Homo sapiens: one gene and its partners. The protein of the gene in region 1 interacts with the protein of each later gene in a pairwise test. Each region holds a gene or a part of one and is shown in the gene's direction. Other genes may lie near its edges.

Region 1 (4,703 bases):
CAGTGCAAGACTCTGTCTCAAAAAAAAAAGAAAATATTTTCCTTGCATGTGAACCCCATCTCTACTAAAAATACAAAAAAAATTAGCTGGGTGTGGTGGCAGGTGCCTGTTATCCTAGCTACTCCGGAGGCTGAGTCAGGAGAATTGCTTGAACCCAGGAGGCAGAGATTGCAAGTGAGTTGAGGTTGCACCATTGCACTCCAGCCTGGGCAGCAAGAGTGAAACTCCGTCTCAAAAAATAGCTACAGCATTCATTTTTGTTTTTGTTTTTGTTTTGAGACAGTCTCGCTCTGTCGCCCAGGCTGGAGTGTAGTGGTCCAATCTCGGCTCACGGCAACCTCTGCCTCCCAGGTTCAAGTGATTCTCCTGCCTCAGCCTCCCAAGTAGCCGGGATTACAGGCGCTTGCCACCACGCCTGGCTAATTTTATTTTTTAATAGAGACGGGGTTTCACCATGTTGGCCCGGCTGGTCTCAAACTCCTGACCTCAGGTAATCCGCCCACCTCGACCTCCCAAACTGCTGGGATTACAGGCGTGAGCCACCGCGCCCAGCCTACAGTATGTGATTTTGTTTCATCGATCATTTCACAGACTATGTATGAGATGAAATAGCTGTGGCCACATAGATAAGATATGGCAGTTTCTTATGATTTCAGTACTTCATATTTACCACCTTTTCAGGCAAGTTACTTTTTTTTTTGAAATGGAGTTTTGCTGTTGTTGCACAGGCTGGAGTGCAGGGGCATAATCTCAGCTCGCCGCAACCTCCGCCTCCCAGGCTCAAGCGATTCTCCCGCCTCAGCCTCCGAGTAGCTGGGATTACAGGCATGCGCCGCCACATCCGGCTAATTTTTGTGTTTTTAGTAGAGACGGGGTTTCTCCATGTTGGTCAGGCTGGCTTTGAACTCCCGACCTCAGGTGATCCGTCCGCCTCAGCCTCCCAAAGTGCTGGGATTACAGGCATGAGCCACTGTGCCCGGCCAGCAAGTTACTTTTTATCCATTATACAAGACCTCTTGGTTGCTAGAAGAATTTTTTTTTTTTTTGAGACAGAGTCTCGAGTCTTGCTCTGTCACCCAGGCTGGAGTGTAGTGGCATGATCTCAGCTCACCACAACCTCTACCTCCTGGGTTCAAGTGATTCTCCTGCCTCAGCCTCCTGAGTAGCTGGGATTACAGGCATGCGCCATGACGCAGGCCAATTTTTGTATTTTTCATAGAGACGGGGTTTCACCATGTTGGCCAGGGTGGTCTCAAACTCCTGACCTCAAGTGATCCACCTGACTCTGCCTCCCAAAGTGTTGGGATTACAGGCGTGAGCCACTGCGCCCGGCTGCTAGAAGAATCTCAGTGGCCAATTCTGTTTGGTGGAAGTCATTATAGCCTCCTGTGTATTTAGTGTTCCTGGGTTAATGTCCTTCTATTCATGGTAATTCATGAAATCTCAAAATAATCTCCAAACAACTTAGTCCTTGCTCTAACACCTATTCATTCTTGATGGTATATTCTGTATTGGCACGTTATCTTAACTCCCCAATCTTTTCCCTCTATATGCAAGCTATTGAATTAATCAGTGTGCTCTCATCAGCCCAGTTCAGGAAAAACACACTTCCTTTTTTGATAGTCTCACCCCTTGGAGTGACTCTTCTTCCTGGAGGCACTTTTCTAAAACAGTATCGATGGAAAAAAGTAAACAGATGGCTTCTTTTGCCTGAAAAACAGTAGTAAGTGGGTTATAATATATTTGTTTTTTAATCATGTCTTTATTTTTTAGCATGGGGCTTAACATTTTTCCTACTCTGAGTTATCCCAGATCAATAATAATTTCTATATATTATAAACCCTTATTTGCCAAAAGGTACTAGTACTATGTGCTAGTACCTTCCTTTCCATTTCATTGGTTTTTTTTTCTCATAGTCTGTCATGCTTGTTTCCTGACTTTTCTTGCTACCATAGTCTTTATCTTGCTTTTATTCATAGAGTTGACTGCTTTCTATTTGATATGTTCCAACTGCCATTTTTTTCTTCTCACCCTTGATCCAAATTTGATTTCTAATTATATAAGATAAACAAGAATGCCAAACTTACTGCCCTTTGACTAATTAGAACATGGAAATAATTTGAGTTTTAGAGAATAATAAAGTTTTTTTCTTCCATTTACAAAAGTAAGAAAACTTAAAAAAAAAAAAAGACTAGAAAAGAGAAAACAATCATGCCATAGTCTGCCACCTGAAGAAACCACCCTTGCTGTGTTCCTCCATCTGTCCTCCGTGCATGTGTGTTTGTATGTTTTGAGCTTGTGGTCACATTTGATAATGCTATGATGATTCCCATACATCTTTAGTAGACTTGGTTACAAATGCACTGTGTGGGACAGGTGCAGTGGCTCACGCCTGTAATCCCAACACTTTGGGAGGCCAAGGCAAGCAGACTGCTTGAGCTCAGGAGTTTGAGACCAGCCTGGGCAATGTCGGGAAACCCTGTCTCTACAAAAATACAAAAAATAGCTGGGCATGGTAGCACACACCTGTAGTCCCAGCTCTTCAGGAGGCTGAGGCAGAAGGATTGGGCGTGCCTTGGAGGTCAAGGCTGCAGTGAGCTGTGATGGTGCCACTGCACTCAGCCTGGGCAACTGAGTGAGACTCTGTCTCAAAAAAAAGAAAAAAAAAAGCATCATCTGATTTTAAATAGATCTTTATAGGTGTTAGGTGTTCAAAAGTATTTGTTAAATGAAATGATTGAATCCTTACTCCTCTCTGTGCCTCAGTTTTCCCATTTCTTAAATGGGGAAAAAATAATTTACAAGATGTTTTGTGAGGATCAGTGAAAAACAAACTGGGCATGTTGGAAATGGTTAGGTCATGTCAAAACTCTCCTTGCTGGCTGTCATATCGCTTTTTTCCCAGAGGCTACTACTTGAGAAGAGGCAAAGGAAAAAGCGCCTTGAGCCATTTATGGTGCAGCCCAATCCAGAAGCCAGGCTACGTCGGGCAAAGCCAAGGGCCAGTGATGAGCAGACTCCCTTGGTGAACTGTCATACTCCCCACAGCAATGTCATCTTACATGGTGTGTATTTAGGCAGCATCACTTCCTAGTGGGGTACAATTTTCACAAACCTAGAAGGCACGAGGATTGTCAGACGGACCAAAGGGACAATATTATTAGCACCATTACTAGGTACCTTCATAAATCTTTATAATCACATTTGGGGTCTTTGAGGAGAATAAAAGCAATGATATAATCAGTGGAAGATGCCTTAAGGTTTGCGTCCATTTTAGAACTGTTGTTTTCTTTTTTTTGAGACGGAGTTTTGCTTTTGTCGCCCAGGCTGGAGTGCAATGGCGCGATCTTGGCTCACTGCCAACCTCCTCCTCCCAGGTTCAAGTGATTCTCCTGCCTCAACTTCCCGAGTAGCTGGGTTTACAGGCGCCTGCCACCATGCCCGGCTAATTTTTTTATACTTTTAGTAGAGACGGGGTTTTACTATGTTGGCCAGGCTTGTCTCGAACTCCTGACCCAGGTGATCCACCCGCCTTGGCCTCCCAAAGTGCTGGGATTACAGGCTTGAGCCACCATGCCCGGCAAGAACTGTTGTTTTCTAGATGCCAGATGAATGAGTTTAGAATGACCTATTTGAGGAGCTCTTGATTGTTAAATCGTGGCAGAGGTGAATCATGAAGCCGGGAATAGGTAGAGAGCGTCCATTCTTCCAACAGATAGTTGAAAGGATCATCTGAGATGGGGAGGGGCGGAGGAAGAATAAGATTGTAAGTGCCTCTAAATCAAGCCACTGGAGCTATTGGCTTGTACAGGATCTGTACTATGGAGGACCTACTTTGTTTTCTTGGTCTCATTCTTAAGTTTCTGAAGTACATATTACTTCAGTTACTGAAGTACAAGTACATATGACTTTAGTAACAGAGCATGTTAATAAAATGAACACCAGGCTGGGCGTGGTGGCTTATACCTGTGATCCCAGCACTTTGGGAGGCCAGAAAGGCAGATCACTTAAGGCCAGGTGTTTGAGACTAGCCTGGGCAACATAACAAGACTCCATCTCTACAAAAAAATTAACAATTAGCCAGGTGTAGTAGCACACACCTGTAGTCCCAGCTACTCGGGGGACTGAAGTGGGAGGATCGTTTGAGCCTAGGAAGTCGAGGCTACAGTGAGCTGTGATTACACCACTGCTCTCCAGCCTGGGTGACAGAGTGAGATCCTGTCTCAGAAAAAAAGAACACCAGTTCTGACCTTCTCTCTTAACAAATGTTCTTATGGATGTTAAGAAAGGAGGGCAGATAAAATGATTTGGTAGTTCTTAATTCTGATCACATATGCCAAATCTACCCAACTAGTGAATAATACTTTGCTCCTTTTTTAAAATTCATTTTATTTTGGCCCTTAGGTATTGATGGTCCAGCTGCTGTCCTGAAACCAGACGAAGTTCATGCTCCATCAGTAAGCTCCTCTGTTGTGGAAGAAGATGCTGAAAACACCGTGGATACTGCTTCCAAGCCAGGACTTCAGGAGCGTCTCCAAAAGCATGGTGAGGACTGGTAATGATTTTAAGGCAATTTGTCTCCTTACTCAATTGTAATCTTTTCCTTTCTTTTCATTGTGGGTAACAATCTACATGACTGAAAATGACTCATGGCTTAGGGCCTCACAGAGGTGACAGTGTTTAGCATCTTTTACATCTGAATG
Region 2 (4,101 bases), on another chromosome or scaffold:
TATAGAAATGCTACTGATTTTCGTATATTGATTTTGTGTCCTGAAACTTTACTGAAGTTGTTTATCAGGTCTAGGAGGTTTTTTTTGGCAGAACCTTTAGAATTTTCTACATATCGAACCATATTGTTGGTGAAGAGAGGTAATTTGACCTCCTCTTTTCCTATTTGGGTGCCTTTTATTTCTTTTTCTTGCCTAATTACTCTGGCTAGGACTTCCAGTACTATGTTGAATAGGCGTAGTGACAGTGGACATTCTTGTTTTGTTCCAATTCTCAGGAGGAATGTTTCCAACTTGCCCGTTCAGTATGATGTTGGCTGTGGGTTTGTCATAGATGGCTCTTAGTATTTTGAGGTATGTTCCTTCAATGCCTAATTTGTTGAAGGTTTTTTTTTTTTATCATGAAGGGGTGTTGGAATTTATTGATTGCTTTTTCTGTGTCTATTGAGATGATCCTACAGTTTTTAATTTTGTTTATGTGGTGAATCACGTTTATTGACTTGCATACGTTGAACCTCCTTGCATGACTTGATCACGGTGAATTATCTTTTTGGTATGCTGCTGAATTTGGTTTGCTAGTAACTTGAGGTTTTCTGTGTCTGTGTTTATCAGGGATATTGGCCTGTAGTTTTCTTTTTTGTTGTGTCTTTGCCAGATTTTGGTATCAAGATGATACTGCTTTCATAGAATGAATTAGGGAGAAATCCCTCCTCCTTGGTTTTTTCATATCATTTTGGTAGGATTGTTATCAGCTCCTCCTCGTATGTTTGGTAGAATTTGGCTGTGAATCCATTCGGTCCAGGGCTTTTTCTGGATGGTAGGTTTTTTATTACTGATTCAATTTTGTAACTAATTATTGGTGTGTTCAGGGTTTCACTTTCTTCCTGGTTCTTGGAAGGTTGTGTGTTTCTAGGAATTTAGATTCCTAGATTTTCTAGATTTCCTCTAGATTTTCTAGTTTATGTGAATAGAGGTATTCACAGTAGTTGCTGAGGATCTTTTACATTTCTGTGGGATTGTTGTAATGTCATATTTATCATTTCCAATTGTGCTTATTTGGATCTTTCTTTTTTCTTTAGCTAGCAGTCTGTCAATCTTATTGTTTCAAAGAACCATCTTTTCATTTTGCTGATCCTTTGAATGCCTTTTTTGGTTTCAGTTTCATATAGTTGTACTCCAATTTTAGTTATTTTTTTGACTAGCTTTGGGTTTAGTTTGTTCTTATTTATTTTTTTAACGTGTTTTTATTTATTTATTTTTATTTTTTATTTTGTTTCTTTTATTATACTTTAAGTTTTAGGGTACTTGTGCACAATGTGCAGGTTAGTTACATATGTATACATGTGCCATGATGGTGTGCTGCACCCATTAACTCGTCGTTTAGCATTAGGTATATCTCCTAAAGCTATCCCTCCCCTCTCCTCCCGCCCCACAACAGTCCCCAGAGTGTGATGTTCCCCTTCCTGTGTCCATGTGTTCTCATTGTTCAATTCCCACCTATGAGTGAGAATATGCGGTGTTTGGTTTTTTGTCCTTGCGATAGTTTACTGAGAATGATGATTTCCAATTTCATCCATGTCCCTACAAAGGACATGAACTCATCATTTTTTATGGCTGCATAGTATTCCATGGTGTGTATGTGCCACATTTTCTTAATCCAGTCTATCATTGTCAGACATTTGGGTTGGTTCCAAGTCTTTGCTATTGTGAATAGTGCTGCAATAAACATATGTGTGCATGTGTCTTTATAGCAGCATGATTTATAGTCCTTTGGGTATATACCCATTAATGGGATGGCTGGGTCAAATGGTATTTCTAGTTCTAGATCCCTGAGGAATCGCCACACTGACTTCCACAATGGTTGAACTAGTTTACAGTCCCACCAACAGTGTAAAAGTGTTCCTGTTTCTCCACATCCTCTCCAGCACCTGTTGTTTCCTGACATTTTAATGATCGCCATTCTAACAGGTGTGAGATGGTATCTCATTGTGGTTTTGATTTGCATTTCTCTGATAGCCAGTGATGGTGAGCATTTTTTCATGTGTTTTTTGGCTGCATAAATGTCTTCTTTTGAGGAGTGTCTGTTCTTATTTTTCTAGTTCCCTTAGGTGCAATGTTAGGTTGTTGAGACCTCCCTGTCTTCTTGATACAGGCGTTTTGTACTTTACTCTTAACACTGCTTTTGCTACATCCCAGAGGTTTTGGTATATTGTGTCTCTATTTTCATTTGTTTCAAAGGATTTTTTTTGAATTCTGCCTTAATTTCATTGTTTACCCAAAAGTCATTCTGGAGCAAGTTTTCTAGTTTGCATGTATTTGTGTGGTTTTCAAGAGCTCTTCTTGGTATTGATTTCTATTTTTACTCCACGGTGGTCCAAGAGATTCTTGGTGTGATTTTGATTTTTTTGAATTTGTTGAGACTTGCTTTATGACCATGGTCAATCTTTGAGTATGTTCCATGTGCAAATGAGAATAGCATTTATATTCTGTGGTTGTTGGGTGGAGTATTCTTTAGATGCCTATTAAGTCTAACTGGTCAAGTGCTGTATTTAAGTCCAAAATTTCTCTGTTAGTTTTCTGCCTTGATCTGTCTAATGCTTTCAGTGGGGTGTTGAAGTCACCCACTATTATTGTGTGACTATCTACATCTTTTTGTAAGTCTAGTAGTAATTGCTTTATAAATTTGGGTGCTCCAGTGTTGGGTGTGTGTATATTTAGGATAGTTAAGTCTTCTTGTTGAATTGAACACTTTATCATTATGTAATGCCCTACTTTGTCCCTCTTGACTGTTGTTGGCTTAAAGTATGTTTAATAGTGATCATCTGCTCCTTTTTGTTTTCCATTTGCATGATAGATCTCTCTCCAGCCTTTTACTTTGAGCCTATGGGTGTCATTACCTGTGCAATAGGTATCTTGAAGACAGCAGAAGGACAAGTCTTCTTTTTTTTTAATCCGATTTCCCACTCTATGTCTTTTGAGTGCTGTGTTTAGGCTGTTTATTTTCAGGGTTAATATTGATATGTGAAGTTGAGCTCCTGTTTCATGTTAGCTAGTTGCTTTGTAGCCTTGATTGTGTAGTTGCTTTTATGGAGTCTATAGACTATGTGCTTATGTATGCTTTTGTGACAGCAAGTATTATTTTTTTGTTTTCATGTTTAGAACTCTCTTAATCATCTTTTATTAACCTTTTTCAGGGTTAATATAGAAATGTGAAGTTTTGTTCCTGTTGTCGTGTTGTTAGCTAGTTGCCTCCTAGTCTCAATTGTATAGTTGCTTTATGAAGAACATAGACTATGTGCTTAAGTATGCTTTTGTGGTAGCAAGTTTTATTCTTTTGTTTCCATGTGTAGAACTCCCTTAATCGTCTTTTATAGGTCCAGTCTGGTGGTATGCCACCACTTTAGAAGAAAGTGGAATTCCACAATTGATCATGAATAAGCCTTCTTGTCTTAGGAAGATATCGTCATTGTTATTTTATTATTCTTACTATTATTTAGGTTTTTTTTTTTTAACAGAAGTTTCGATTGTTGAATTGTATGGGAATTAACAGAAGTGTGTGACAGGTTCCAAAAAGTGGGGATATAACAAAAGTCCAAAGTAAAATATTCACTGTAAGCATAGCTTACAACTTAGCCTGGGTGTATTTTAAAAATTTTTATGTTTCCCTATTTTTCTCTCTCTGTTTTTTAGAGAGTATACATTAGTGTAACACATATCTTTATTGTATTTTGTATGTTTTCTTGAAATCTGGGATTAGAAGAGTCCATTACCATCCTAGACATCTAATAACATATCTTCTTGCCATATTTCTACTAAGGACCAACCTGACTTGAATTTTAAAACAAAAAAATGCGAAGCAATTGCAAACTAAGTGTGTTCTAAAAGCCTCGTTCATTTTTCCATGTGAATCATTTGAAGAAGATTGTATCAGTGAAGAAAGGGAAAAAAGTTTCTCAGTTAACAAAAGTATCTTTATTCTTTATATTAAAAGAAGATTACAATCTAAATTATTTCTCATGAAGTCTAAGGTTTTTGGTTAGGGAATGTAAGATGACAGATAATTCATATGATAGGGCTTTTATGATACATATACCATGCAAATGA
Region 3 (4,777 bases), on another chromosome or scaffold:
TCAATCTCCCAGCTCAAGAAATCCTCCCACCTCAGCCTCCTGAGTAGTTGGGACTATAGATGTGTGGCACCAAGCCCAGCTTGTTTTTTTGTAGCGACGGGGGTCTCACTATGCTGCCCAGGCTGGTCAAGCAATCCTCCCGCCTCGGCCTCCCAAGGTGCTACTGTGAGCCACTGCGCCGGGCCCAGTTCTATGTTTAAAATACTTCCTTCTCAACCTTATTTATTTTTAGAGTTGATGGCCACACCTAAATATTCCTCCTTTCTTATACAATACCAGTCTTTATCTTCATTGTCTCACTACTTCGGGGACTGAATGGTCTCCTATTTTATTGTTAACATGCCATATCCTTCAAAACTGTACATCCTCCAAGGTGTGGTTAATTTCTGCTTTTAACAGGAAAATCAGAGGCCTGCCTGCTTGAGTCCCCCTTCAAGTACTCAGTATTTGAGTGTCTACTAAGTTATAACAGTTAACGCACAAAATTCTAGTCCTCATGTTGTTTATACTCAGGTATTTATTGGGAGACACGCGTCAGTAGTCCCTGATAAATGGAAAGATCGCTTGAGTCCAGGAGTTCCAGTCCAGCCTAGAATAGGTAAAACATGCTCTCTGAATTAGTCTTTGAAACTGGTAAACTAGCTCAGAAGTTTTTTTAAGAATTCCATGAGTGGTTTGCTGGTGTACGTTTATTATATGCAGTGAAAGTACTTAATCTGCAAACCACCCCAAATTAAGCCCCTAACTCGCAAGCACAAAATGGACTCGATTATTTACTGAGTTATCAGTTGGCCTTGTCCTTAGTTGTACAGGGACTAATGACTCACCTATAAATAATGGGCTCTTCTAAGAAGACACAGTTGAGTTGACACCTCTTTGTCCTATAGCTGGGAGGAACGCATTGCAAACGCCAACCCAATGATTCCCTAAATGGGGTCTTCGCATCAGCTGCGTTAAAATCACCCCAGCAGGCAGGTTATCCGGCCGCCACTCCAGGGTCATTAAATCAGACTCTCCAGTGGGACCTCGGAATTCGTAGCTTAGCAAGCTCCCCAAGTGATGCTGGGAGTAAACTAACGTTTGAGAGTCACAAACATGTTTTGGCAATATAACCAGATGGGACTGGAGAAATTAAAAAATGAGAAACATCCCTAAAAAAGCAAGACTAAGCTGCGTGGGAGGCCAAACGAGGGGGGTCCTTTGGGCTGTTTCTACCATGACAAAAATCGCCATTACCCCACACCTCTCACACCGCCAACGTTCCGCCAACGTTCCGCCAACGTCCCACCACCCTCATGATATCCGTCCGCGGTACTGCTCCAGCGAAGGTACCCTTGCCTGGGCCATGAGGCGCAACCGTCCCTCACAGCTGGGGTGGCTTCTCCAGGTTCGCACCGAGGGGAAGTTGGGGTACCGGTTTCCGCCGCCAGCACCCAAGATGGCGGCACGAGCGTCGCAACCACAAGAACCACATGCTTCGTGTCCCGCCTCAGCATTCTCGGGTCTCACTAGACTTTTGCAAGTCACTGTGGGAACCCTCAAGGCGAGGGTGTTCCGCACTCTGGCGGCGATACACCTTCCTATTCCCTGACCTAGGCCTTCATTCCCCCGCCACAGAAAGCGCTGGAAGCGCCCAACCTGGATACTTCACCCAACGCCCAAGCCCACTAACATCGCCCGCCGCGAAGGCGCGGCCGAGGGGCCCAGAATGCCAGACACTAGGGCCTTCGCCCTCCTCATTGGTGGGTCCATACCGCGGGGCGGGCCTAGGTACTCATTGGGCCGGGAATTATGTCAGTCTTGGGAAATCAGGTCCGGGGATGAGGAGGTACACTCAGCCATTGGGCCCTCTCTGCTGCCAATCAGAGGGACATCCGTCGACGGCCCCGGCCTCGGCTCGTTGATTGGAGAAACTGTTCCTAGGGTGTTTGCGGCGGGCGGGTTTCCGAGTGCGGTAGCAGGAGGGGGCGGGGAGGTAAGCGGAGGCTCCGAGCTCTAGGCCGGCCGGCGGTGGCGGCGGCGAGGCCGGGACTCGGGCTTAGGGCCTGCTGTGGAGGCAGCGGCGGACGCCGAGCTAAGCAGTGGGTATCGGGCACATTCCTTTCCCAGAAGGGAGGGTTGCAGCGCCGCGGGGCCGAGGCTTATGGGGCGACGGGATGGTGCTGAGGTGCAGGAGGCGGGGGCCGAGCGGGGTTCCCGCCAGAGCCCGGCCCTGGGCCTGACAGGGAGGGGCCCCGCGCGGGGCCGAGAGGAAAGCTGGCTCCGGGGTGGGATGGACTGGGCAGGGTTGAGGGCACGAGAAGGCGTGGTGTGAGGCCTGGACTTGGGAGTGGGGTGGGGCCATCGGGACGGAGGGCGGGGTGGGGTTTGCTGTAAGGGTGGGTCAAGGCCAGGGAAGTAGCACTTGTTCGCTGGCCGCCCCTGGAGGCTAGAAGCTCCGGCGCCGAGAGTGGGCATGGCGACTTGGTCTCAGCCGGACTCGGGTATCCGGGCAGGGTGGGACCAGCCTCAGGCTATGGGCCCTGCACCTACTTGATTTTTAAGGGACTTTGTCCGGTTCCTCGAACTTAATTGGCTCCTGGGAGGTTTTAGTAATAAATTGCGTGAGAACGGGAGGGTAGCGTAAGCAGGAATTCTGGGTCGCAATTGTGTTTACTCTGACCAGAGAGAGGGAGTGTGAGTGTGTGTGTGTGCGCACGTTCGTGTGTGTACGTATAGCTCGCTCTCCCCCTGTAGAATGAAGTTGGTAGATGGGTCACAACGCAGGAGAGGAGAGGCGGTATGTCTTGGTTTGTGACATTAATGGAAGCTCAAAAGTGGAGACCAGAAACAGATTTACTTCCTCTGCACTGGGCAGTCTGGCTAGAGAACGTGGCCATATCCTTCTGCTTTGGCTCAGAAGGTCATATGAATGAAAATAAAACCTGCCTATGCAAATTCTGGACGGAATAGTCCTGCGTAGTAGGGCCCCCACCATCCCTCTCCTTTTTTTCTTTCCTTTTCTTTTCTTTCTTTTTTTTCTTTTTTTGAGACGGAGTTTTGCTCTTGTTGCCCAGGCTGGAGTGCAGTGGCGCGATATCGGCCCACCACAACCTCCGTTTCCTGGGTTCAAGCGATTCTCCTGTCTCAGCCTCCCGAGTAGCTGGGATTACAGGCATGCGCCACCACGCCCGGCTAATTTTTGTATTTTTAGTTGAGATGGGGTTTCTCCATGTTGTTCAGGCTGGTCTCAAACTCCCGACCTCGGGTGATCCGCCCTCCTCGGCCTCCCGAAGTGCTGGGATTACAGGCGTCGGCCCTTTTCCTTTTTTTTCTTTTGTAAGTTGTGAGGATAGGAAAGGGAAATCAGATTTCAAAGTTCAGAAAACAAAAGGCATTCTTCTTCTGGGTGAAGTGGTGGCCTGAACATTGTCCTTTTGTCCTTCCACACTCTCACTGTTTAATAATCTTGCCTTTTTGAACTGAGAAAAGACAACTGTTATGGGTGGTTTTCTCCCGAGGGGTGAAAATCCAGCTTTACTTTTAAGACAGGAAATGGGCTTCTCATGTGAAAATAGAAGCTGGGTAATGCGCCTGTAGTGGGGGAGGAGGGCTGGTAAATAAAACAAAGGTGTAAGATATTTTGGATGACCTGGTTATTGTCTGCTTATTCAAACCAAGCTACATTTTAGGATATTGCACATTTAATATTCAGTAACTGAGATCATTCGTGATCAGTAGCTTTCTTTGATAGTTCTTCTATGATCGGTTGCTATATTTTGGGTTTTTTTTCTGAGAGTGTAAGTAGTCCTTTCTTCCTGTAAAAGTGGCCTTTAGGCCAGGCACAGTGGCTCACGCCTGTGATCCCAGCACTTTGGGGGGCCGAGGCGGGCAGATCACCTGAGGTCAGGAGCTTGAGACCAGCCTGGCCAACATAGTGAAACCCCATCTCTACTAAAAATACAAAAATTAGCAGGGCGTGGTGGCAGGCGCCTGTAATCCCAGATACTTGGGAGGCTGAGGCAGGAGAATCGCTTGAATGCAGAAGGTGGAGGTTGCAGTGAGCACAGATCACGCCACTGCACTCTAGCCTGGGCGACAGAGTGAGACTCTGTCTCAAAAAAAAAAAAAGTGAAAGTGTCCTTTGAATGTGTTTTCTACCTTCTACTGTGAAGGTTTTCCTACCCTGATCATGATGTGAAAAGTATGGAATCTTATCCTGTTGCTTTTGTGATTCCCATTTCAGGTTTCTCTGGAAACCCCCCTGGTAAGTGTGGAGGAGGCGGGACACTCTGACCCAAGACGAAAGGCCTGTAGCTCCAGCCAAAGAAAATAAACCTTAGGAGGGAGAAGGAAAAAAAAAATCCATCAGCTGTTCCTGAGAACAGCCTGCATTGGAATCTACAGAGAGGACAACTAATGTGAGTGAGGAAGTGACTGTATGTGGACTGTGGAGAAAGTAAGTCACGTGGGCCCTTGAGGACCTGGACTGGGTTAGGAACAGTTGTACTTTCAGAGGTGAGGTGTCGAGAAGGGAAAGTGAATGTGGTCTGGAGTGTGTCCTTGGCCTTGGCTCCACAGGGTGTGCTTTCCTCTGGGGCCGTCAGGGAGCTCATCCCTTGTGTTCTGCCAGGGTGGGGTACGGGGTTTGACACTGAGGAGGGTAACCTGCTGGCTGGAGCGGCAGAGCAGTGGCCTTGATTTGTCTTTTGGAAGATTTTAAAAACCAAAAAGCATAAACATTCTGGTCCTTCAGCAATGCTTTCTCTGAAGAAATACTTAACGGAAGGACTTCTCC
Region 4 (4,771 bases), on another chromosome or scaffold:
ATACAAAAATTAGCCGGGTGCAGTGGCACGCGCCTATAGTCCCACCTACTCGGAAGGCTGAGGCAGAAGAATCGCTTGAACCCACGAGGTGGAGGTTGCAGTGAGCCTTGATCATGCCACTGCACTCCAGCCTGGCGACAGAGCGAGACTCTATTTCAAAAGAAAAGAAAAGAAAAGAAAAGAAAAGAAAAGAAAAGAAAAGAAAAAAGTTAAAAAAAAAAAGATCTGACCTCTCTCCTTTACATTCAAAACAAAACAAAAAGAATATTCAGATTCTTAGTTTTATTTTCGACTTCCTGTCCTTTTCTGATATATCCCCCAAATAGTCTCTCACTGGCACATTTTTGTCATACACTGCATCTCAGCCTTAGCCTTTCTTTCTGGTCTGGTCTTTTCCTTTTAATCTTTTTTCTCTTTTTTTTTTTTGAGACGGAGTCTCACTCTGTTGCCCAGGTTGGAGTGCAGTGGCATGATCTTGGCTAATTGCAACCTCGGCCTCCCGAGGTCAAGTGATTCTCCTGCCTCAGCCTCCTGAGTAGCTGGGATTACAAGTGCGTGTCACCACACCCGGCTGCTTTTTGTATTTTTAGTAGAGATGGGGTTTCACCGTGTTGGCCAGGCTGGTCTCAAACTCCTGACCTCAGGTGATCCACCCACCTTGGCCTCCCAAAGTGCTGGGATTACAGGCATGACCCACCACGCCCAGCCCTCTCCTATTTTTTCCTAGCCAGAATTGAGAAGTCCATTTCTATTAATAGTTACACCCATTTTTCTTAAACTATTTATCGTCCAATTATAATCCTTTGAACACTAGGAAGGAACACAATTTCCACACACATTCACATATATAGGCAACATTTGCCAAGCACACATCTGCACCCTATCATATGGCTATAGTTTGCCTTATTGCAGTAGGGGTATTTGGAGGATTCAGAACATGTTTTCACCTGGAATGGAAAGGAGGCAAAGATTGTGTGCTAATGGAAATCATTAAGATCAGTAACCCAGGGCTCTCAAGTATGGACAGTTAGAGATACTGACTCGGAACTGAGATTTAGGGAAAACAGTTATTCAGTACCTATTTCTAGAATGTTTGAATATACAACATATAGACAGTGTATAGTTTATAGTCAAAATATAATGTACAGCCAGTCCAGTTCCCAAACCGATTGTCTGGGTTCACCCCTTATTAGCTTTGCCACTTGTTATCTGTGTGACCTCAACTAAATTACTTTACCTCTCTGTGCCTCAGTTTCAATATCAGTAAAATAGAGATAATGACAGAATTTAGCTCTCACGGTAATTTTGAGGACTAAAAAGTTAATGAAAGATTTGAACAGTGCATTGATATACTAAGTGAAATGCAATGTTTAGTTATCTTTTATCTGGTCATTTTATTAGAATCTCTACAAAATACAGAAACAAAAGTTTTATTATGCAGTCTTATTTTTGTTCACTGTTACGTAACACATTTTACACATTTTCCGCATTCCACGCCCCGCCCTTCAACAACAACCACCACAAACTCCGACCGTCCTTTCCAGGCCCTTTCCCTCTATAAACCTGCCGTTTTCTGTCTCCCAAGTCATCCCAGTTTAGAACTGCTCCAGGAAATAATGAATGAACAGAGAGAGCCTAGTTTGTTTATTTATTTACAATCCACTAGTCTAATCTAGTTTAGATCCAGCGGCAATTTTTGGGGTGCCAAGGAGGAAAGAAGGAGATGGCAGTGCGGGGACAGGGCAGAGCCTGGGCCAAAGGAAGCCACACCCAGTTCTTGCCCTGCCCTGCCCGACACAGGCAACGTGACCCCAAGCGACAGCCAGCTGATGCTTGCTTCTCCGAGCCCGGCGGTCAGCAGCCGGAAGTAGCCCGCCCGGGGGCGGGGAAAGGTGCCTTAAGGAGGAGCTAGGGGCGTGCGGCCAATTGCAAGCGACTGTCCTAGCGAAGAGGGCGGAAGAGGAGAGATCCAGTTCCGGACGCGGCCGCCGCCGTCGCCGCCATCTGTCACCTCCACTCCGGCATCAGCAGCCAGTCGCCCGTGTCCCGCCTGTCTCCTCGGCGGAGCCTGCTGCCCGTCCTGCCACCTCTCTGCTCTGTTCTTGTCTCTGCCTTCATTCCCGAATGGATCTGGTAGGAGTGGCATCGCCTGAGCCCGGGACGGCAGCGGCCTGGGGACCCAGCAAGGTAAGTGGCAGACGAGACTGGAGTACTAGCCTTGGTCACACGGGCTGGATCTCTCGGAAAGCTCGGAGAGGGCGGCTTCGTGGGCGATTCGGGAAGTTCTGGGGCGGGACCCCGCGGACCTCGGCAAGGGGGCACTGGCCGCGGGGGTGCCGGGATGGGGATGGAGGGAGCGGAAAGAGGGGCGGAGGGCGGCTGGATCTCCCAAAGGCCACCTTGAGTGGTTAGGGCTCTCTATTTCTTCAGCGTACTTTCTGTATCACCGTAGCATGTATTTGAGCAGGACTGGCTTACACACCCTGATGATACTGGAGGGGAAACAAGCACGATCTTGTTTTTCACTGGCCAAGTGAGTCAGCCGAATACACAGCTAGCCAGACAGAAAGTTGGTTTAGGAAGCTGTTTACTTAATTTGATAAGTGTGGTTATCCCAGTTTGGAAATGTCTTGTTTTTGAAGCAGTAAAAGATAAAACCCAGGCGCACCCTCCTCCCTCGACGCTGAAATTCAAGTGCGCACCACGGACTGTAAAGTGCTTATGAATTTCATTATCTGCCTAAGCTTTGACGTTTAAACTTTTTCATAGAGTGGCAAACTAAAGACCTTTATTTCACATTTGCTTTCTGGTTTCCAGGCAGGTCCTTTTCATGATACTTTGATTATATGGATGAAAACACTTTTCTGCCACTTTATGGAGGGTCTGCTTGAGAGCAGAGTGCTTCCATTGGGATTTTTTGTTCCACAAATTAAGGTCGTAAAGGAGTCTAGCTTTTTTAGCTTCATAGTTGTTCTTTACATGCTAACACAGAATATTTGTTCCCATTTAAAAGGTCTTATTAGATCTTCAGGCTAGGCCTTAACAGGAAAAGGGGTCAATAATTAGCTATTAAGTAACCAAAAGTTAATTTTGTAAAAGTTCTCGTACAGCTGTTGGAAGAATCTGAGATACTGCGTTGGCAAATGTGGTTAAGTCTGCATGTTATTTTGTGTATTTTTCCTTGAGACCTTGTTTACAAGGTCAAGATTAGCAGACATAAAAGGATGAAATCAGTAGACAGACTAGTATTATGAATATATACCCTGTATGTTAAAGTCCTTCAGTTAAGCATTGGCAGAGGCTGGTAAAAATGTCAAATGAGACAGACTCTATTCAGAATACATCCTAATCTCAGAACAAATTTCACTTACAAACTAATTCAGTAATAAACTATTTAACAGTCATATTTTTATTTAAGTGTACATCATCAGAACTATAAAATTCCATTTTCATTGTGCAACAAAAATGCTTCTGGGATTTATAGACGCTCTATTGGGAGGACAGTGTTTTGAAAGGCAAAACAATTAGAAACAGGCTGAAAGTACTATCATTAATCCTTTTTTTCTCTAACCTTTTGGAAAACCAAAGTGATTACAGAAGCCTACATGGAGGAGGTGAAGATTTGAGGAGGGTTTTGAAAAATGGAAGGATTCTCAAAACTTTTTAGTCAGGACTTCTTTCCTTCCTTCCTTCCTTCCTTTCCTTCCTTTCCTTTCCTTTCTTTCCTTCCTTTCTTTTCTTTCCTTTCTTTCCTTTTCATTTATTTATTTATTTGAGACGGAGTCTCGCCCTATCGCCCAGGCTGGAGTACAGTGGTTTGCTCCCAGCTCACTGCGACCTCTGCCTTCCGGGTTCAGGCAATTCTTGTGACTCAGCCTCCTGAGTAGCTGGGATTACAGGCGCCTGCCACCACGCCCAGCTGATTTTCGTATTTTTTTTTGTAGAGATGGGATTTCACCGTATTGGCCAGGCTGGTCTCAAACTCCGACCTCAAGTGTCCACCCGCCTCGGCCTCCCACACTGCTGGGATTACAGGCGTGAGCCACCATGCCCAACGTCTTTCTTTTTTTTTTTTTCTTTTTCTTTTTTTTTTTTGAGACGGAGTCTCGCTTTGTTGCCCAGGCTGTAGTGCAGTGGCGCGATCTCGGCTCACTGCAAGCTCCGCCTCCTGGGTTCAAGCGATTCTCCTGCCTCAGCCTCCCGAGTAGTGGGACCACAGGTGCCCACCACCACACCCGGCTAATTTTTTGTATTTTTAGTAGAGGCGGGGTTTCACCGTGTTAGCCAAGATGGTCTCGATCTCCTGACCTCGTGATCCGCCCACCTTGGCCTCTTTCTTTTTTAATTGAGACAGGGTCTCACTCTGTCACCCAGGCTGGAGTGCAGTGGCATGATCACATCTCACACTGTGCCTTGACCTTGCAGGCTCCCACCTCGGCCTCCTGATTAGCTGGACTACAGGCCAGTGCCACCACACCTAGCTAATTTTTGGGTTTTTTTTGAGACGGAGCCTCGCTCTGTCACCAGGCTGGAGAGCAGTGGCATGATCTCAGCTCACTGCAACCTCCGCCTCCTGGGTTCAAGCAATTCTTCTTCCTCAGCCTCCCAAGTAGCTGGGACTACAGGTGCATGCCACCATGCCCAGCTAATTTTTATATTTTTAGTAGAGATGGGGTTTCACCATGTTGGCCAGGATGGTCTCGATCTCTTGACATTGTGATCCTCCCACCTTGGCCTCCCAAAGTGCTGGGATTACAGGTGTGAGCCACCG

What was found. The genes of interacting proteins can lie anywhere in the genome.
Region 2: the proteins of TULP3 (region 1) and CLIP4 interact in a two-hybrid assay, tested with the Homo sapiens proteins (one large-scale study listed by BioGRID and IntAct).
Region 3: the proteins of TULP3 (region 1) and NFE2L1 interact in a two-hybrid assay, tested with the Homo sapiens proteins (one large-scale study listed by BioGRID and IntAct).
Region 4: the proteins of TULP3 (region 1) and RIOK3 interact in a two-hybrid assay, tested with the Homo sapiens proteins (one large-scale study listed by BioGRID and IntAct).

Annotation. Positions count from the first base shown.
Region 1 is NC_000012.12:2,917,858-2,922,560, forward strand, and holds part of TULP3 (tubby-related protein 3), read left to right. Parts: intron 1-2,905; coding exon 2,906-3,065; intron 3,066-4,404; coding exon 4,405-4,545; intron 4,546-4,703. UniProt on the Homo sapiens protein: Negative regulator of the Shh signaling transduction pathway: recruited to primary cilia via association with the IFT complex A (IFT-A) and is required for recruitment of G protein-coupled receptor GPR161 to cilia, a promoter of PKA-dependent basal repression machinery in Shh signaling.
Region 2 is NC_000002.12:29,138,814-29,142,914, forward strand, and holds part of CLIP4 (CAP-Gly domain-containing linker protein 4), read left to right. Parts: intron 1-4,101.
Region 3 is NC_000017.11:48,046,382-48,051,158, forward strand, and holds the start of NFE2L1 (endoplasmic reticulum membrane sensor NFE2L1), read left to right. Parts: upstream 1-1,977; 5' UTR 1,978-2,081; intron 2,082-2,399; exon of another isoform or gene 2,400-2,483; intron 2,484-4,225; 5' UTR 4,226-4,737; coding exon 4,738-4,777.
Region 4 is NC_000018.10:23,451,316-23,456,086, forward strand, and holds the start of RIOK3 (serine/threonine-protein kinase RIO3), read left to right. Parts: upstream 1-1,971; 5' UTR 1,972-2,124; coding exon 2,125-2,187; intron 2,188-4,771.